2 separate regions of the Homo sapiens genome follow, and region 2 is linked to region 1. Evidence: fine-mapped expression QTL. A gene starts in region 1. The other region holds a variant in brackets. All regions are shown on one strand. Distances are between the middles of the regions.

Region 1 (10,925 bases):
CTCTATCTATTTAAATTGGGTTTTCAATATTCTGTAATGTTAGAATTCTCTTCGTTCAAGAAACTTAATTTCAATTTAAATATTTGATGAGATCAGCCTTTCTGGAAAAGTGATCAATAAAACACTATTTTAATAAGGGTGCATCCTACCGACCTCTTGCTGTCCCTGGAACCTGCCAGATATGCACTTGCTTTGTACCGGCTGTTCCTTCTGCCTGGAACCCTTCTCCCTGATGTCCTTACAGCTCCCTACCTTGCTTCTTTCAAGTCCTTGCCCAGATGTCACCTTCTCAACGAAGCCTGATCTGACCACTTATGGCAAAGCACCTCCCCAGCACTCCTGATCCCTTGATCCTGATCTACAATTTATTTTTTCCACTATGCATGTTACCTTCTAGCATGTATTATCCTTACTTACTTCCTATATCCTTTACTCAGTATCTATTGCCCCACTAGAATATAGGTTCTAAGAGAGAAGAGATTTTGCCCTTTTTGTTTACGGATGTATCCCAGGCTCCTACAACATTGCCTGACACATAGTAGTAGAAGATTAATAGATATTTGCTGAATATCCTACCCAGCTACCATTAAGCATATATGAAAAGTAGATGAATCTAAACGGTATATTCTTAAAATGTGAAATAAAGTTGATATTTACAAACATGTATTAGAAGGGCAACTTTTCTTCACGGGGTGATTGCTTTGTATTAAAATGTATTATCTTGCACAGCACATCACTTCACAGGTTTAAATTAAGATACCCACATGACTCCAAAGGTACCCCAAATTCACCACGGGCCCCTTTTTAGCTCCAAATAGATTCAGGTCTTTGAACAGAGTAAAAAGGGGCAGGAGGAATAACTTGTGCCCAACACAAAACATTCAGAAAACTAGTCCTCAGAATAGTGCTGAAGGTCCAGGAGTGCACAGGTCCTGTTCCCACTCACAGAAGCTGATCCTCAGCGTCAACTAGGAAGATAACCATTTATCAGCCTGATTCTTCAAGAACAGCAAGGGAGAGCAATGAAGCAAAAGTTCACAGTTGTAACTTTGTGAAACAAGTCATGAGACAATATTGCCTTTCTTTAAAGCTTCAGAGACAACTGTAGTCAGAAGCAACCTCCATTGTGACTTTTCTGCCTCCAAGATTTGCTGAAATTTGCAACTACTTACCTTCATTCTTATATTAGAAGAGGGCTTTAGAGATAGAAAATTTCCATGCCGGCTTATTTGTGTCATTTACAAACACTGGCTAGATGAGCGGGGGTCTGAAGGAGTTAAGTCCATAAAGCCACTTTAATTATTAATTCTTTCAGTGAGTTCTTTGCATACTTACTAAGTTCCTCTGCCACTTCGTCAAGGCAGATGTCATTATTCACAGCAGGGTTGGGATAATTAGGATATCGTGCTAAGAACTTATGACACAATAATCCTAAACTTTTCTCTTTTCGACTTGGTTGGGATTTCTCAAATTCATCTCCAGATAAGTGTTCCTACAAAGGAAAAGGTAAACAATGTCTTATTCTAAAATAAAGTCTGACAGATTTATTAGGGGCATCTGTGCTCGATGACTGACACCAACTTACACACGCTTAGCTTCAACAGCTGCAAAGTCTGGATGGGAGAAAAGGTTAGGGGGGCCAGTACAAAATGCTTGGCAAACCTGAAAGGAAAGCCTGAAACGAAAATAACGCAAAGGTTCAGAATTCCCAGAGCTATATTTCTTGGGGTCCAAACCTTTCTGGTGCTCCGAAGGAAGTTAATAACAGCCTTCGGGTGGTGATGCTTTAAATTGCTGGCACTTCTCTAATAGCTACAACCTCCCCCCTCCCCCCAACAAATTCCCCAGCCTCCAACCAGTCCTCTGAAAACCTACGTGTATACAGTCTTTGGCCTCAGGTAATCCACTTCTGTTGTCAAACAAACCCCTTTTCTGATCTCTGTTGCGGATCTCAGGGCTCACAGCACTGATGAGCATTTTCAGGTTGGCTGTCGGTGTCCACGGCTCTCCCTGAGAGCCTTCCTTGGGCTTGGTAGGTGTGGTTAAAGGGCCAAAGTCAGGCTGGATCTCTGCCAACACGATATTTGCTGTGGTGGATTCTTTCAGAGGTGTTTTCATTAGTCCCCTTTTATGTGGCTCACAAAAGAGATTTTCCTGGTTTAAAAAATGTAAATAATTAAATCCATGGTAAAACAGGATTTATCAGACAGCTTGGATTCTAGAAATTGCATAACGAATAGAATCATGCCAAGGAAAAAATGTCTAATGAGATTGTAGAGTTGAGGAAATTAATAACTGTATTCTAATGGTCATGTGATGTGTATTGTCAATTCTAATAATTACATTTCCCATTTTTAATTTTGCAATAAGCCATAAATGTTTTCACCTTATGTTTCAACCACTGAAAAAACAACTTTAGTTAGGACTTATAATTTTAATTGTATTTTGAAATAGTTTTAGATTTAGAGAAGAGAAGCAAAGACAGTATAGAGTTCCCAAATGCCCTTCACTCAGCTTCCCCTAATTGGACTGACAATGTTAAATGATCAAACTTCTAGAAATGACTTTTGTTTACTCATGGCACTGTAATAAGTAAAGGCCTACAGGGCAGAAATTCTTATCCACCTAGCATAATGGCTGCATGCAGTGGGTGCTAAATAAAATACCACTGAAGAGTCAGAGAGACAAGGAGACAAGAGTGAGGGATAGCATATGGTCAGATTTATCAGGGAAATCTAGAGTGTCCAACAGCAGGATTTCTGACCAGAAAAGTCTGCTCTTTGAACATCCACTCCCTCATTTTACAGATAGAGAAAATGGGGCCCAGAGAAGTAAAATGATTAGGTTGGTGCAAAAGTAATTGTGGCTTTTGCTACTGAAAGTAATGGCAAAAACAGCAATTATGTTTGCATCAACCTAACAGCTACCTAAGACCACAAAGCTAGATCCTGGCAGAAGCAGGATAGCCACTGAGACAAAAGGGTAAATTAACAGCAGTTCATAAATAAGGCTAATGGAGACTATGTTCCTTCCAGTTTTGGACACCAGGGACTTCACACACTACTCCCATCTTTATCTATTTTAAAGAAAATGCTTGGAACAGCAATAAGTAAAATAATAGGCAGACCAAATAACTTTAAGAACATGGACAAATGGGACATGTTGTGACATCTTGGGTTTATCAAGTGCATTTCCGTTTGTATGTTCATGGAATCCTGCATTCTTAGCTCGCAGAAGAGAAGATGCAGGCTGAGAGAGGTCACGTAGGAGTGGAACACAGATATTTTCACTCCAAGTATGGTGCTCTTCTTACATGGAAGTCAGTATGGTGGACCCAACAGGAGCTCCTTGCCAGTGTGTGCATCTGAGATGTACTGATCTGACAATAGGCTTTTTCTTTGCCTCAGATTATCAGAAGCAATAGTAATTCTCTTATTTGACTAACATCTAAAACTATTAGGAAATATGCATGTAAGTTCACTTTTTTAAACCTATTAGTAGTTGGACACCCCCCACAGACAATTCTTTTGTAATTTTACAAAATGTTTGCCCCCTAAACAGAGCATTTTGCAGACCCCATAAATAAGCTGCCAATTTGGTAAAAAATTATCTTAAAAAGAAATTCAGTCTCCAAACATGTCAAATGCCCTTTCTGAATTCCAAGTTGTTCAAGAATCCTCAGAAATGTTGTAATGAAACTAACGAATTTTTGAAGAGGGGTAGGTTTGCCCCTTTACACTCTTTCTAGTTTTTAATGATTTGGTAGCTGTCTCAGACATAAAGAGAGAAAAGGTATTTTTAAGAATAATAAAATTTGTTAGTTTCATTACAACATTTCTGAGGATTCTTGAACAACTGGAATTCAGAAAGGGCATTTGACATGATTGGAGACTGAATTTCTTTTTAAGATAATTTTCATTTTTTAAACTATATTAATTAAATTAGTATATATTTTAAACTATATATTTTTGAAACTATAAGATAAGGTTCATTTTTTCCAGGTCTTTACAGAGGCTAACCAAGGTTGTGGCATTAAGAAAACACATTGGATAGGGAAAAATTATGGAGTTAAATCAGGATGATACTGAATTTAAAATTGCAATGATGAATACTGAAGTTATAAAGTACCTTTTCGTTCTCCATTCTGTAAATTCCTCATACATTTAGAGTTTAAAAATGAAAAATCTGGAGTTCCTCCCCAAATCCCGATGGTTCAAGTAGTCCAATCAATTGTACTAAAAGTTTTAATATCCTTAAAGAAAAAAGGAAATAGAAAAAGTTAGAGAAAAACAAGAACCAAAAGATCTGTTGAAAATTCCTTCACGGACAAGAGGCTACGGAAACAAAGCCTAACGAAAAATGACAAACTAGATTTACATTTTATTCTCGACCAGAGATCGCCCCACTGAGCGGAGAACGCCAACAAATGCCAGTAAATTCCTTCAGCAAACGGATCGGCGGTCCTAAGACTTCAAGCAACCCACGGAATTTCTAGTGACAGCCCTCTCCCATCTGTAGAAAAGGCGAGCCATTCTCCGGACCCCAGCGAATACTTTAGGAAGCACCCACCTGTTCGCAGATCAGGGCTCCGGACTAAGCGCACGAGCCCAGGTCCCAGCTGAGCGCACGCGACCCCAAGTAACTGGGTACAAGTCTGCATCTAGATGCCTGGATTTCTCCCCTTACACACACGTGCACAGGCTCAGCAGTAAAGTCGTGGGAGGTCGCTTGACAGGAAAGTTCCAAATTCAGTCCCAAAGCTCCAAGTATGCAGTTGGGCATTTAAAGAGTCTTATAATTAAGACTTTTTTTTTAAATTTAAAAAAGGGCTTCCTTAAAGATACAAAGCACTATTTACTCCCTGTTCGGGTGGCCAGTTCACACCACGGCGTTAGACTCCACCTTGGAAGGCTGTATTTGCCCAATAAGGCAAGCAGGTACTGTCCCCCGGCCGCCACTCGCTCAGTGCACTTCCCCCAACTTTCGGCCAAAGGCCCCTCCCCCAGGCCCTGTCCGCCCGCCGCAGTCCCGACAGTTCCCGGACAGCATCATCGTGGTTTCCAGGACAACAATTCCCGACCAATCAGAGGGCCGGAAGCGGGCCTGCGATTGGCCGACGGCGCCAGGGGCGGGGCCGGACCTTCCGCCTTCGATTTAAAAATTTGGCGCGGAAAGTCGGACCGTGGCCGGCGCCTCCCCTTAGCTGCGCGGGGCCTGAGCGCGGGCAAACCCGCGCCCGGAACCACGGCAACCCCGCCCCTCCCCCTCGTTCGCCCCCGCCCCTCTGCGCGGGAGCTCAGCTCCTCCCTCACGGCCCCCGGCGAAGCGGGAGGCGGGAAACGGCCGCCGCCGCCGCCGCCGCCACCCTCCCGAGCCCTCTCCCGGTGCCGTGTCGCCCGGGCGCCGCGCCCCTCTGCGTCCCGCTGACCTGTCAGTCCACCTCACGGCGGGAGCCGGCGGGGGCTGAGCCGGGACTCGTCAGCACCGCTGCCCCTCTCAGGCCCGGGAGCCCGCGTACCTGGCAGTCAGTCTTTCCGCAGCGCCGAGGTGGGTGCCGGAGAGAGACGCCGGGACCGGGACTGGCGGGCCGGCTGGCGGGCAGAGGGAGCGTGACCGTCCAGGAGCAGCCAAGCCCCCGATTTGAAATTAACCCGCTCCCGGCGCGAGCCGATACCGCGGGCGGGGAGGGCCGCTCCCCTCCCCCACGCCCGCTCGCCCCGGCCCCGGCCCCCGAGCGCCAATCCGAGCCTCCCGACCGTAGCCGCCGGCGAATCGGTGCAGGCACCGCCCTCCACTCCCGCCTCTACGGCAGAGTTGGGGGAAAAGTTCAGCAACTTTTTTTTCCTTTTTTTTTTTTTTTGCATACACCCCCTCCCCTTGCTCAAAGTTGGGGAATAAAATTTGGCCCGTCCGGGGCTCGCGGGCTGGGCCGCAGGCGCCCTGCGATTCCCCGCTTGGGGCTATCTCACCCCTGCCCAGCCCCAGGCCGGCTCACCTGCCCTCGGACTCCAGCCGGACCTCTCCCCCTTGCACCCCTGGCATGCATGATTGTGCTGCCCACCGTCTGCCCCGTGCCTCGCAGAAACTGGCGCGAGGAGGGAGAAGCTTGGCTACTGGTGCCTAAGCTCCGTGGGCTCTGGGCCTTGGCCCAGCGGTGAGAACTCAGGTGTAGGAGGAAGAGGAGGAAGGCGGAAAACCCTCCAACCCTGTCCTCGCCGTCTTTCCTCAGGGTCTCCCACCCACTCCTCCCTTTCTCTTCCCTGTTGTCTTTCCCTCTTTTTCCGGTCTCCGAGCCTCAGGCAGCTTTAGCCTGGTTCCCTGTAGAGCCCTAGCAGGGTCGGGGAGACACTTCGATCCTTCGTCCTCACTTTGCAGAACGGGACACCGAGGCCCGGGGCGGCGGCGCTGCCTCGGCTGCACCTGGATCATTTGCGCCCGCGTTGGCTCCCTTTGCTCTCCTCTGCCTTAGACTTTTCTGCGGACTGGTGCTGAGTGTTGCCCAACCGCGCCGAGATCTGGGCGCCGGTCTCTCGATCTGGACTCGGTTTGGCTCGTCCTCCTCTGTAATCGCGTGTCTTTAGGCTCCAGCAGGGCCCGGGGCCACACTTCCCCACTCCCACCGCTAACTTGGGGATCAGTGACTCTCCCATTGCTGACTAGCAGGGCGAGGCATTTTTATTTTCTGCGAAACGCGATGAGGGCGGGGATGCTATGATATTGAGGCTGGGGTCGCAGCGCAGCAGCTGCCGGCCATAGGGCCAGGGGTCTCCGTGGCGAGCGAAGGCTCATCTCCCCGCGGAACGCGACCGCAGGCTTGCGGTGTGGCCGCCCTGGAATGTTGGCGCCGTCGTGTCCCTGTCCCCCTTTCGTCGCCAGCTGAGGTGCAGGTCTTGCTCAAGAAGGCGCTTCGACCTGAAAGCAGGCCTTTCAGGTACTGTGCAGAGGGGCCACTGCCTGTGGCTCGCAGATTTGAAATAAAGCAGAGGTCACTATATAGGGTTCCACCGTTGCTAGCACTGAGCGGCTGGTTCTTACTAAGCCCAGGTACCCCTTTTTTGGAGCAAGACTGGGTTCTAAATGTATCAACAAAAAGTGGGGAGTTGGTGCTTCTGCTTTAGCCACTAGCTGTTGGCCAGATTGTCATCTCCCCCAACCCCCTGAATGGTCAGCGCTCCCAAGAGTGCATAGATTCAGCTATGCCTAATGTACCCGAAGTTATTACAGCCCCGGAGTCCTGTGGGCCATAAATCCCTTTTAAAGTTCTTTAGAAGCAGTCTGCCTCATGCACCTGTGTTCAGAGATAGTGACTAATTCGTTCAAATCTGTGATCTACAGGGCCATTCATGCTGCAGATGTCTGAGTGACAGTTACCTGTAAGGCACATCATGCAGGGAGCAGCCACCTCTGGTGACACTTGACAGATGGCCTCTCATTTCATACTCAGCACAGGTGTGAAAGCATGGGTTATGACTCTGAGAGGGAAGCAGCATTTTAAAGTGACAAACCCAAGGTCTAACTGTAAGGGACAGGACTGGGATTTGAAGCCAAGGGTGTTTAACGTCTCAGGGCTTTCCACTGAAAGCTGTGTTCACCACTGTGCGGCGTGCTCATCCTTACTTGCTTCATAGGATAGTTGTGTCCCATTTTATAGAGAAGAAAACTGAGGCACAAAAGGGTTAAACTGATGGCCAAGTTAGCTACAGAGCCAGAATTAGAATCCAGGTCTACCTGCTCCAAGTTCATACATCCCATTCCACTGCCTCTGAAAGTTCCTGTGAGAGCAATGTTAGTGCCAACTCAGGCTAGCCCTTAACCATTTCAACCCCTCCCTAAACACACAAAAAAACAGGAAGGTGAGAGTGTAATTCTTGCTTACTGATAGTTGTCATGTCTTACTGAAGGAAGTGAAATTATAGTCAAACTCATTGAATATGTTGAAAAGTGGTTTTATTAAGAGTGAAGTGATACAGTTTTGAAGTCTTAACAACACTTTCATGTAATGAAAGGTAATAAAGAAAGAAAGGTTCTACTCATCACTGTGTAGAGTATCAATTTGAAATGCAGCATGAGTGTAAAGGAGGGAAAAGACTACTGAAAACTTTTATGTTTACTGCATAACCAAGAAGGAAGGATCAGGGCATAAGCTTGAAACTTTTTTTTTTTTTTAATTTTCCCATCAAATATGTTTTCCACTTATTAGTTACATAATCCAAGGGAATATTTGTGTATTTGTTTCTGGTCTTTTGTTCATCATGTTGTGTAATCTGTGTCTCACTGAAGTTAGACCAGTTTTTCTACTCTGTGCTGTCGCCCTTCTGGATTGCACAACTTGGAGGGCTGATACGTTGTGTAACACGTTCAGCATTAAATAAAGTATTATGAAAAAAGATATCAAAGGTAAGGAGGAAAGATAGGCATCACCGGGGCGCCTACATTCAAAGGTAACATTTGGGATTTCTGAAGCGTGTCCCTTTTCATCATCACCAAAAAGACAGGCAAGACCTTCCCCTGCTGAGCAGGGAAGGATGAAGGGCTAAGGAAGGAGTTCTAGCTAATGGGTTTCTTGACCTTTTCTGTCTGTCTTGCTGCCCCACCTCCTAGGTGCTTATATCACCAACTCTGCTTCCTGACCTAGTGGGGCAATTTGGGTTTGTGCTTTATCTGCAGTACGTGTTGGCATAGATACCACGAAACAGCTCTCTGGAGCTTAAAACTGCACAAATCCCTATGTGCTGGGTTGGATTGTGGCTGCTCACAGCTAGATCTCAGCTATTCCTGGTCCTTGTACTAAGCCTACAAATGAATCATGCTGGGTCTAGTCTGGGCAGGGTTAAAGAGGATGGATACAAGCAAGGGACCCAGGAAGTGGGCATGCCTGGAGCTGGCTTGTGCTGACTGTGGAGCTAGACTAGGTCAGAGTAAGTCCCAGGCAGCAGCAGGGCTGTGTGTGAAATCCCTTCAGACTCTCCTGTGACCTCCTGTGGGAAATTCCTGATAGGCCCTGATGTATCCTGATGAGCCCCATATAGACATTTGCAGCCCTGGACTCAGCTGCAGCAGCAACAGTTGCTGCCATTTATTGAGCAATTACTGCTTCTAATTTCTTTTTTTGTTGTTTTTTTTTGAGACAGAGTCTTGTTCTGTCACCCAGGCTGGAGTGCAGTGGTGTGATCTCGGCTCACTGCAACCTCTGCCTCCTGGGTTCAAGCAATTCTCCTGCCTCAGTCTCTCAAGTAACTGGGACTACAGGTGCGCGCCACCACGCCCAGCTAATTTTTGTATTTTTAGTAGAGATGGGGTTTCACCATATTGGCCAGGCTGGTCGCGAACTCCTGACCTCATGATCTGGCCACCTCAGCCTCCCAAAGTGCTAGGATTACAGGCATGAGCCACTGCGCCCAGCCAGCTTCTAAATTTTAAAAATACTTTGGGGATAATAGAACACAAATTTTTCTGAGAGTCCTCATGCGAAGCTGGAGTCTGAGTTCTGTTCTCATTTTATTATTGCGCATGGAATCTTAAAATTGTCATAATGTCATGTAATCCAGTGCTTATCAGTGGGTTGGAAAAACCTGCTTTTCCAGGTTCTAGGACATTAAAGAAGTATATGTAGAGATTCCTAGGAGTAGGGTTCAGGAATTTATTACCTAAAATATAGTCCTACTGGAGCCAGGCGCTGTGGCTCATGCTTATAATCCCAGCCCTTTGGGAGGCCAAGGCGGGTGGATCACTTGAGGTCAAGAGTTTGAGACCAGCCTGGCCACATGGTGAAACACCGTCTGTACTAAAAATACAAAAATTAGCTGGGCGTGCTGGTGGGGCCTGTAATTCCGGCTACTTGGGAGGCTGAGGCAGGAGAATTGCTTGAACCCGGGTGGTGGAGGTTGCAGTGAGCCAAGATTGCACCACTGCACTCCAGCATGGGCCATTAAGCAAGACTCTGTCTTAAAAAAAAAAAAAAAACAAAAGTCCCATTCAATGCAGGAATCCTATAACCTTCCTGATCAATCAATGATTGCTGCTCTTTGCTTAAAGCTGGTAGTGAAAGGTAACTGTGCTGATCCCCTCCAGGCAGATTTATTCACATCCTGTTCTTGATCATACCCCTATATAGGCACCTCTGTTATGGATGCTTCCCACCTACACCACTGTGCGCTCCTTAAGGCAGGGAGAGGGACTTCTTCATCTCTTGGTCTTTCCAGTGCCCAGCAAAGTGCCGGACCCAGAGCAGGGGCTTGATAGGTGTTGGTTGATGGAGTAAAATTCTACTCTGGAATGTTATCCCACCAACCTCAGATGATACCTTGTCTTTTAATCTCTTTATCTTCAGTACTGAGTTCAATGCCTGGCACACACTTGGTGTTCCATAATGCTAGGAAAATGAGCTCGTAATTACCACTCCCTTTTAAATGTCAGGTTTTTTACTTTAGCTAGGTTCTTCGGTTTTATTTATTTACTCACTGAAAAATAGTATACTGAGTGCTATACTATGCCCCTAAACCCTGAATTAGGTGCTAGGTATACACAGTGAGTGAAAGAGATAAAGTCCTTGCCCTTTTGGAGTTTATATTCAAGCAGTAGAAAGTGTCTGGTGCAAAGTGTTAGCTTTTATTGTATTTTTTTTTTCCTGTGTGAGATTTCTCGCCATTCCTCAATTCAACAAATATGCCTTTTTTATTTTTTTTTTAAAAATAAATGTTCTATCTCTATAGTACTTTTTAAAAGTTTCTGTAGATATTTTTCTTCCCTAGGAACCCAAGTTTTCTTCTCTTCTCCTTTCATCCCATATGTATGGATCACTTGCTCCAAGCCTAGGGACTCAGCTAGGCACCAGCTACAGGACATGTTGGCTGCCCTTGGGATCCCAGCAACAAAGCCAACTCTTCACTTACTCCCACTCCCCCTCTCTCTTTCTCCCTCTTCTG
Region 2 (10,925 bases), 39 kb before region 1:
CTCCCTCCCTCCCTTCCTTCCTTCCTTCCTTCCTTCCTTCCTTCCTTCCTTCCCTCCTTCTTTCCATCCTTTTTCCTTTCCTTCCCTCCCTTCCTCTCTCCATCTCTTTCTCTCCCTCTTTTCCTCTTTCTTTCTTTCTTTCTTTCTTTCTTTCTTTCTTTCTTTCTTTCTTTCTTTCTTTCTTTCTTTCTTTCTTTCTTCTTTCACTACCAACTATAAAGCTGAGCAATGATGAGTTAGGGCAAAAGTGGTGGGTACATAAAATGAGCACCCAGGAGGGAACTTTAGGCCATGACTTTGGGCAGAGACCTCAAGCCACAGTGCCACAATGCCACCGTTTTCAGCTCAGTGCTAGCTCAGTTGGTCATCCTACTAGATGCCTGATTTCCTGCAGTGAGTTCAATTGTCTACACTGGCTGAAGCAAAGATTTTGGATCATAGGAACATATATATATATATATATGGAATCTAAGCGATAGTAATAGTCATTTCTAACTTTATTATTGAAGTTAACATGCCTGGAGCACTGCCCTTGGGTATCGTTTAATCTTCACAACAACCCTTCAAGGTAGGTGCTATTATAACATTTACTTTACAGATGAGGAAATGGAGGCTTTGGGAAATTACATTAGTCCAAGTTCATGGGACTGATATGTGTCACATGAATAGATTGGAACTTACGTTTCTCTGACTCCAAAGCTTTACATATATTATTTTATGTCAGTTGCTTTACATATATTATTTTTTAATACTTACAACAGCTGCCCAGAGCAAATTTTATTTCCATTTTTATGGATAAGAGAACTGAAGAGCTTAAGTAGCTTTTCCAAGGTCACACAGCTAGTAATTGGAAGAGCTGCCATTTAACCCCCCGTTAAGCTGGTTCTGTATCTCATGCTCCTGTTTATAACACTGGAGAGAGGACAAGGGTCAGCACCTCCATCACCCAGACTTCCCAGTTGATGGGAATTGAGACGTGACCAATCCATTGTCTCTCCATGGGACACAGAGGGTATTCAAGGGTGGGACTAACAGGGAAACTGAATTCATTCACTGAAATCAATGACTTTCTGAGTTACGGCTGTTCAACATGGAAAGGGCTTCCTTGGAACTGGAGATTTCTTCTGCACTATTGATTTTCAGCTGAGGTGGGGACGGATGTCCAAGTGGCTGCTATACAGTGAAGTCCCTTCAAGGGTCCTTTAAGCCCTGAGACAGATTTAAGGATCTGAAAAGTGATTGAAACCTCACTTTGCAGAAAAGCTGCCCAATGGGGTGCCCTCTCAAACCCTCTCCTTTATTCACTCTTAATTTGGGTAAGAAAGATGACATAGCCACAGTGAAAACCATGGGCTTTGGAAGAACCAAGCTTAAGTTCAGAAACACTAACTGTTGAACACTGGGCAAGTTGCTCAAATTCTCTGACCCAGTGTCCTCAATGCATGTCCTCATGTAAAGACAATATGAGAAGGCTTGTCTGGGAAGGTTGTTTTCAGGTTAAAGAAGATAATAATAGCTAAGACACCATATAGAATTACTTAATACATAGCAGGAATTGAATAATTGTAGTTACTTGCATCATGACTATTATTGTTGTTATTACATTATCTCCAGTTTTCAAGTCTGTTCTTTTAGAACAAACAACTCACTCCCTGCTTGTTTTCCATGGCCCTTCTGGTTCAGACTGTGAATCAGCTTTGTTTTTCAGCCTTTGGAGTGTGCGGTGCCCCAGGACAGGTGTGCCCAGGTCGGGGTGAGAGTCGGTCCCCTTGCGTTGTTGGATTGGGTTGGAGGCAGCATGCCTAGCCAGGGGCCCTGTAGTCTGGGGAGCTCATGCCCTTCAGTTCTCGGTGTAGGACATTCAAGGTCAGTGGCTGCTTCCTCCTGAGCTTCTGAACCCAGATATATGACGTCCTCCGGCCAGAGGCCCTTTCACAGAGCCCAGGAAGAACAGGTTGCTCATTGCCAGCATGGAAATAAACCTGAGTGTTGGCTCTCAGCCCCTTTTAAACTCAGACATGGTAGACATACATTAAATGAAGGCTGTAGAACATGGGCATCTTACACCTTTTGTGAAATTATATCTGAAGCGTGGCCAGCTTTTACTTCCCAAAACTCACTCTTTGTTCTATTTTGACCTCTACAATTTATTTCTAAAGACCACATCATATCCCAGTTTACCTCCTGGCTCTGCCGCTTTCTCAGCCATGTGATGCTGGGCAATTCCTAAGCTTTCTAGAACTTTAGTTTCTTCCTCTGAAAAATGAGTTTTGCATAACTTTTTGTGACCCTTAAATAAGCTAGTACTCGTTCCATGCCTGCCTAGGCCATAAACGACCATCAAATCATGATCAACCCTTTCCCACAGTAAAGCTCAGAAAAGGCTCCATCCTCAATGCCCTTTAAGACCATTACTGTCTCCCTTCCTGCCATTCTTCACTGGGATGAATAACTGCAGTTTTTCACATTTGCAGGCATCACATTTCTCTTTGTGCATGAAGCCCAACCCTCTATACAGTATTTATTCACAGATATCTGAACAGCACACTTGTAACTGGAAATCTGTCTGCCTCAAGACTTGTATTTCCTGTGTGTTATATTCCTAGCCCTGGGTCTTTCCTCTTGTAAAACAAATTAATTATCTTCTAACTCCTGGTCAGCTTCTTACCCACTCTGACCTCTGGACTTTTATCAGCACGCTTGTACTTAGCAGGAAACCCCCCCAAAACCCACTGGGTTTGGCTGTATGCCTTTTCTCAACGTTCTCACATATTTGTACGGTTATATTAAACTTTACAAAAGTACTTTCCTATACTTTATCTCATTCAATTCTCACAAGTCCCTTTGATAGAGGTAGGCTACCCTTAGTTTTATTGTTCAGAAAATGGAAACTCAGATAAGTTAAGTGATATTCAGAGCTATAATTTGAACGGGCTCTATAACTGATTATCTTTATTTTCTTCTTGAATATCCCAGGATTTCTGAGTTTCTATTCTATCAAGATTCTGTCTCCACTTCCTCCAAGGGAATTTTGGCTATTTGCTGGCTGAATGCTGCTGCAGCTCCCTCTTCCTTCATTCCTCTCTTCCTCCCTTCCTCCCTCCCTCCTTCTCTCTTTCCTTCCCCCCTTCTCTCCTTCGAAGGAGGAGGCCCCTTGCCCTGTGTCTCCTGTTTCTGATGGATGACACGTGTGTCTGGGCTGCAGAGCACCTGTCTGCCTGAACCCCAGGGAGGACACAAAGCCCTGGGGCTCAGCTACACCTCCTGCCCAATAGCCTGGGCTCATTGCCACTGACCACAAACGACTGAGTTGTTCAGAAAGGGAACAAAGCCAAGTCATAAGACTCCCTCACATTTTCTGGATCATAAAGCAGTTCTACATGCATTGTGATGAATTGTATGTACCCAGCATTGAGATTTAATCCCAGATGTAAACTGAGGACACAGGCCATCCCCAATTTCCCACTCTTCGTGCTGTTCACTTATACCCTTCCCTGCATAGAGCTGCCTCTACCTCCCTCCAGCCCTGACATAGGAGATGGTCCATACATGCTTATTAAATTACATTGAATCGTATTGCAGAGACAAGGTTCCTCAGACCAGTAACTCAACTCCTCCTTCTTGGAGGAGTCACCACCTTGGCTCAGGAACAGGGCAGAAATTAGAGTCGGCAGCTTGGATCTTTCAGCAGCATTTCCACTCAGACCATTGCTTAAAACCTCTTCTTATTCTCAATCACACCTATGTCTGTCATTCACTGGGATATTTTAAAAAGTCCTTGACTAAAACCTAGAGGAAACAGTGGGAATCCTAACCACTGGATAAATTATCCTCCCATTTAATAGAGCTTTTAATATATTTCAACATAGCAATGTCTTTTTGGGGTCCAGTTTTGATTAATTTCAAAAGATTAAAAGCAAACTTGTTGCTGAATATCTTTGGGATACAAAAGTCTATTTAAAATCAACAAGCCCAAAATCTCAGTCATTCACCACGACCTTTTGAATAACACCATTCCAGGTAAATTGAGCATGGGAAAGCTGTCTTATATATTGCATCTAGTACAATCGCTTATCGCTTTGTATCTGTGCAGTACTTTACAGTTTGGAAAAAATGTCGCCAATTTGTATTGATCCTTGCAGAAGAGGAGACCAAGCCCCTGAGGGCAGGAACCTTCTCAAAGTCTGTCATCCATGAATTATATGGTGGTTGTAAGAC[G/T]AGAAGGTCAGCAGACTTTCCATTATTTCCTCCCGCTTTCCAGTTGTTCCAACTAAGATGACAGGAAATGTAATTCCACCACGTAAGTAGTTTTATAATGAGGATAATTCTTTACTCATTTATCTGCCTATGAGGTCCCTTAAGCCCCCTAAATATTAACCATCCTTGCAGGAATTTTTTAATACCTGCTAGATCCACACCAGAGTCAAGTACAACTTGAGCCTCCTTGCACAGAACCAGAGAGGGTGCTGGCACTTGAGACGTAAAATGTGCTCTTACTCTATGGGACCCTTTATAGTCCAAACCAGCCACAGAACCAACCCACCTCCAGCTCAAATGTCTGCCTTGCTCCACTCACCTGCCTGTGTGGACTCCGTTCAGCTCAACTGAGTCTGAGGGGCTCTTGTCCTCTTTAAATATATGAAGGCTGTCACCAGCCTTGGCCTGCTGGGGGAAGGGCAGGAGGGAGGCCAAGGGAGAGGGTGAATGAGACGTGAGTAACACAACTGCTATCAGGGGCTGAAAATAGACTGTGACCAAAGCCCTGAGTTTTGTCTCCCCCAACCCCCCAGCCAGCTGTGAGCCTCTTGGAGAACCGAATCACTTGGGTTCTATTTGCACTGCCAATTGCTTATGGCACCAAGGGATCAATTTATGAAGTGTGTCATTTCTGATCAAGTGGTTGGAACAGGAACAAGAGCTAAGGGTTTAACATCAAAAATCATTTCTCCAGGCCCCCACCCCACTGACCTTCCTGGAAATCATTGCAGGGTACCTGCAAATGAGTCATGTGCCATATCTGGGAGCCTCTGGAACTTAGAGCCACAGGTCACCACACTCGTGAAGAGAACTCAGAGCTAAAAATAAGGGTGATGGGTGTCTGAAACGATACTTAGATAATCTCTTCAAAGAAGCTTGGGAGAAAAAAGGTTGGCACATCACTTGGGACCTGTCACTCCATCTATCCTAGGAAACGAAGTTTTCTCTAAAAAGTTTTGATTTACTTTGTTATTATCCTTTTCTATTTAAGAATTTGATACAGCAGTGCATATTTATCATCATCACATTATATTTATAACATCTTGATATGTCTCTGTAGACCCATATTTTCTTTGGAGGTCTAATTTTTCTTTGTCTGGAATTCACACCGTTTAAATTTGATCAAGCACCAGGGACTGATATAAATTATGGCATTGAAAAGCTGACAAGAGGTTCAGAGATGTGAAGACCAATTCTTCATGTTATAGATGAGGAAACTGAGGCACCAAGCCCCTTCCACTCATGTTGACCCGGATGTTGAGGTAAGGTACATGTAGAACCCAACCGGGAGGTTCATGATCCAGCCTTCACATCAGATATTAGCCCTTTGGTTACCTGCCCACAAAGCAATTGTTGAAGGATAGAATATTTCACTGTCAAGAAGGTTGCAGTAATTTCACAAAGACGGCCGTGGCATAGCCTCCTATGAGATATCCGTGGTCTGTGTTTTCACTAAATGGCATCTTCATCATAAAGACGAGGCAATCACGAGGATTTTAGAAAGTTAAAGCTAGAAAGGACTTTAGAAATCGTCTAGGATAGTGGCTTTTGTTTGTTTGTTTGTTTGTTTGTTTAGAGAAATGGTCCCGTTCTGTTGCCTAAGCTGGAGTACAGTGGCATGATCACAGCTCACTGCAGCCTCGATCTTTTGGGCTCAAGCAATCCTCCTGTCTCAGCCTCCTGAGTAGCTGGGACTATAGGCGCACACCAGCACGCCTGGCTAATTTTTTTGTAGGGATGTGGTTTCACCATTTTGCCTAGGCTGGTCTCAAACTTTGGGGTCAAGTGATCTGCCCACCTCGGCCTCTCAATGTGCTGAGATTACAGGCTTGAGTCACTGAAACTGGTCAACCAATAGTAGCTTTAAAATTTTTTTTGTGTGTGTGTTTGCATCAGAATACTTTTTTCTGTAGATAAGAGGAAAATCAGTATATAAAGCAGATAAAAGAGGAGCTTCCAGTGATGATGAGCATTTTTTCATGTGTCTTTTGGCTGCATAAATGTCTTCTTTTGAGAAGTGTCTGTTCCTATCCTTCGCCCACTTGTTGATGGGGTTGTCTGTTTTTTTTTCTTGTAAATTTGTTTGAGTTCATTGTAGATTCTGGATATTAGCCCTTTGTCAGATGAGTAGATTGCAAAAATTTTCTCCCATTTTTGTAGGTTGCCTGTTCACTCTGATGGTAGTTTCTTTTGCTGTGCAGAAGCTCTTTAGTTTAATTAGATCCCATTTGTCAATTTTGGTTTTGTTGCCATTGCTTTTGGTGTTTTAGACATGAAGTCCTTGCCCATGCCTATGTCCTGAATGGTATTGCCTAGGTTTTCTTCTAGGGTTTTTATGGTTTTAGGTCTGAGAAATGCAAATCAAAACCACGATGAGATACCATCTCACACCAGTTAGAATGGCGATCATTAAAAAGTCAGGAAACAGTTGCTGGAGAGGATGTGGAGAAATAGGAACACTTTTACACTGTTGGTGGGACTGTAAACTAGTTCAACCATTGTGGAAGTCAGTGTGGTGATTCCTCAGGGATCTAGAACTAGAAATACCATTTGACCCAGCCATCCCATTACTGGGTATATACCCAAAGGATTATAAATCATGCTGCTATAAAGACACATGCACACTTATGTTTACTGTGGCACTATTCACAATAGCAAAGACTTGGAACCAACCCAAATGCCCAACAATGATAGACTGGATTAAGAAAATGTGGCACATATACACCATGGAATACTATGCAGCCATAAAAAATGATGAGTTCATGTCCTTTATAGGGACATGGATGAAGCTGGAAACCATCATTCTCAGCAAACTATCACAAGGACAAAAAACCAAACACCGCATGTTCTCACTCATAGGTGGGAATTGAACAATGACAACACATGGACAAGGAAGTGGAACTCACACACCGGGGCCTGTTGTGGGGTGGGGGGGGGGGGGTAGGGATAGCATTAGGAGATATACCTAATGCTAAATGACGAGTTAATGGGTGCAGCACACCAACATGGCACATGCATACATATGTAGCTAACCTGCACATTGTGCACATGTGCCCTAAAACTTAAAGCATAATAAATAAATAAATAAATAAATAAATAAATAAATAAAGAGGAGCTTCCATGCATAAGTTGGAGTTGAACAATGAGAACACATGGACACAGAGAGGGGAACAACACACCCCAGGGCCTGCTGTGGGGTGGGGGATGGGTGAGGAGAGGGAACTTAGAGGATGGATCAATAGGTGCAGAAACCACCGTGGCACACGTATGCCTATGTAACAAACCTGCACACTCTGCACATGTATCCCGTTTTATTTTTTTAGGAGAACAAAGGAAAAAATAAAGTTATAATTAAGCATTAAAAAATAAAAGGAGCTTCCTTGCTTGAAATGAATGCTGCACTTTGACCGTCACGTCTTGCCCTCTTTGCACATTCTGAACTTGCCTTTACACACCTCCCCACAACATGATGTGTAGTTTCAGTTTTGGATTGTAATTAGTTTTGTTCATTATGGGTTAGTACTTACTTAAACCTAATGATAAATTTTAGTGCTTTCTTCACTCAATTACTGTTTTGTTATTGTTGTTGTTTGTTTTTTGAGATGGAGTTTTGCTCTTGTCACCCAGGCTGGAGTGCAGTGGCGCAGTCTCAGCTCACTGCAACCTCTGCCTCCTGGGTTCAAGTGATTCTCCTGCCTCAGCCTCCCAAGTAGCTGGGGTTACAGGTGCCCACCACCATGCCTGGCTAATTTTTGTATTTTTAGTAGAAACGGGGTTTCACCGTGTTGGCCAGGCTGATGTCGAACTCCTGACCTCAGGTGATCCAACCAACTCAGCCTCCCAATTACTGTTCTTTATTTACTTTTTGTACCTTACATTTTTAATTCTGTGTGTGTGCATGTGTGTGTGTGTGTGTGTGTGTGTGTGTGTGTGAGGTAAATCATTCTCGATGAATTCATTGAGAGAGTCTGCTGTAAACTTACTGAATTATCACATAATGTAACAAATGCCATAGACAGGCTGGTTTAAACAACAGAAACTTATTTTTGCACAATTCCAGCAACTGGAAGTTCAAGACCAACGTGCTGGCAGGGTTGGTTTCTTCTGAATGTAGATGGCTGTTTTCTCTCTGTATCTGCACACGGTCTTCCTTGTGTATCTGGGTCCTAATTTCCTCTTCTTACAAGGACAGCAGTCATATTGGATTAGGAGCCACCCATATGATTTCATTTTAACTTAATTACCTCTTTAAGAACCCTATCTCTAAATACAGTCCCGTTCTGAGCTACTGGGAGTTAGGACTTCAACATACGAATTTTGGAGGGACACTATCCCGCCCCTCATAGTCTTCATTTTGCTTTCACTTGAATGCTAGTTTGGTTAAATTTAGGAATCTCTATCCAAAATAATTTTCAGTCAGACCTTTGAAAACTGTCTTCAATTATTTTTAGTAACGTACATGACAGTTTGGTGCCAGTCATATTCATGTTCCTTTATTGACTTGTCTTGTTTCCTCTAGAAACTTTCAGGATCTTCTCTTGAATTTTATGACAATTTCCTGTGTTACGGCCTTTTAAATTTTATTTTGCTTGAAATTTAGTGGATGAGTTCAACTTGAAAACTCACTTTTTTTCCTTTAGGAAATTTCCTTTTATTATTTCTCTCATTAATCCCTCCCTATATGTAATGTTTCCTCTTGCTGAAACTCTCATTAGAAGTTAGAATTTCTTTGTCCTTTTATGTTTATTAAGGGAGAATTCCTTAGCTCAATCTTACATGGAACTAATTTGCATTTCCTCCATGTACATTCTGCTCAGCTCATCTACTGATTTTAAAATAATTACATTTATAATTTTTAAGATACCTAATTTTTTCATATAGCCCATCCTTGCTTTATAAATGACATATCATCTTGCATCTCTCTGGGGATATTCATTATACTAACTTGGGGGAAGTCTTCTTTGTTTGCTCTATCAATTATGTTTTCTTGGATATTTGTTCTTTTGTGTGTTGAGTTTGGTGTTTCATCTTCATAGTGCTGGTTTTTCAACTATATTTGGGATTTTTGGATATGTGTTTACCATGTCATTTGAGAATTTCTGTTTTCCTTTTGGTGGATACCACCTCTGATTAAAGGAGCTTTCCCGCAGGGACTGTGGGACAGGGATGGAGCCTGCTACCAGGTGTGTGCAGTGGCGGTGTGTTTCCTGGGTGTGAGCTGTCCCACTCTCTCTGGAGGTCACTGGTTCTATGGGGAGTTCCCTGGGATTTCTGGCCCCTTAGTCTGGAGCCACACTGGAAAGTGAGGAAAGCTCCTAGCCCTGGACCCATCTTCTTATCCATCACCCTTGTGATAGCCCAGGGTGCCTTCCACTCTGCATGTCCCAGGACATGCAAGTTTGGGATGTCCCAGGACAGCTCCTGCCTCGCCACACGCTGCTACACTGCTGTGGCCAGGACTTCTCGCTCTGTTAATCCACAGCCTTCTGCTTTCTCTCTGGAATTCTTTGAAATTTCTCACTTGTTAGTGGACACTTCTTTTTATGGTGTTGTTTTCAGTGTTCTCTCTAATTTATTTTCTTTTAAATCACTTTCTGGAGTTCTAGGGTCTGTCAGCATTCTCCAGCACTGTGCTGTCCAACACAGTAGCCATAACTGCACGTGGCTATATAAGTTGAAATTATTTAAGATACGTAGAATGTAAAAGTCAGTTTCTCAGTCACAGAAGCCACATTCCAAGTGCTTAACAGCCACATGTGACTAGTGCCTCCACAGTGAAGAGGATAGCTACAGAATGCTTCCATCACTGCAGAAAGGTCTCTTGGACAGCACTGCTCTACATCTTCTGAATCTGAAAAGTGAAGAAATTCCTAAATCCCTTTTGAGATGCTATGAGGAATAGGTGACAGTAAGCCCGTGTTGTGCACACAGCAGGGTGCTCAATCAGTACAAGCTGAACGTCCACTCAATGGCAAGTGAATTGGTGGTGCTGGGACTGGAACCTGCTGTTTCTGCCTCATTGTTCCCAGAATTACCATAAACAGGTGAACCATTGAGAAACAGAGGGCATGAAGGAGACCAGGCAAAAGCGTGAACCAGGACAGTGAGGGCGACCTGAAATCACATGCCTTAAAACACTGCCTTTATACCCCAAATCAGAAAAAGAGAGCTCAATTAGAAACAGTGATTTATTTAATCCTCACAAGAACTTTGTCAAGAAGGCATTATTATTCTTCCCCTGGTATGAATGAGGAATGAAATAAATGCAGTCCATGAAAATGAACTAAATCTCTTACGCCACACAGTTAGGTCAACGGGAAATTCACGGCGATGTTAGGACCAGTATCCATTGCTTCCTCATTCGTATTCCTTAGGATAACTAAAAATTAGTAAGTCAGGGGGAAACACACATCACAAAGGTGATGAGGAAATTCAAACCCAGATCTAACCCAAAACCCTTCCACAACATGGTTCCAAAATGTGTTTGATTATGGTCCCCTCATAAAACATTTTTGAGCAATACACACGTGCACAAACACACACACAGTATAAAACATATTCACAATGATGCACTAAAAAGATATTAAATAGAATACAAGTCTCAATCTTTTGTCTCATACTCTAGCATTATTTCTCATGTTTCCTAGGGGGCTCCCCACCTCCTACTT

Alleles and levels. Alleles are on the strand shown, and positions count from the first base shown. SD is a standard deviation of normalised expression in the study named.
For the expression in skeletal muscle of the gene that starts at base 4,967 in region 1, allele G in region 2 goes with a higher level than allele T (small effect, 0.19 SD a copy in GTEx).

What was found.
Region 2: its variant is fine-mapped to the expression of E2F8 in skeletal muscle (GTEx, PIP above 0.99).

Annotation. Positions count from the first base shown.
Region 1 is chr11:19,235,979-19,246,903 of GRCh38, forward strand. It overlaps E2F8 (E2F transcription factor 8), which reads right to left and starts at 4,967. Exons shown (of 13, transcript NM_024680.4): 1 at 4,570-4,967; 2 at 4,129-4,252; 3 at 1,876-2,154; 4 at 1,336-1,492. The coding sequence starts at 4,143. All of the region lies in intron 1 of CSRP3-AS1 (CSRP3 and E2F8 antisense RNA 1), which reads left to right. RefSeq lists a silencer at 5,037-5,736 and enhancers at 5,857-5,966, 6,172-6,743, 6,744-7,313.
Region 2 is chr11:19,197,378-19,208,302 of GRCh38, forward strand. It overlaps CSRP3 (cysteine and glycine rich protein 3), which reads right to left and starts at 4,606. Exons shown (of 6, transcript NM_003476.5): 1 at 4,577-4,606. All of the region lies in intron 1 of CSRP3-AS1 (CSRP3 and E2F8 antisense RNA 1), which reads left to right. RefSeq lists an enhancer at 9,008-10,925. The variant G/T (reference allele first, on the strand shown) is at 4,219.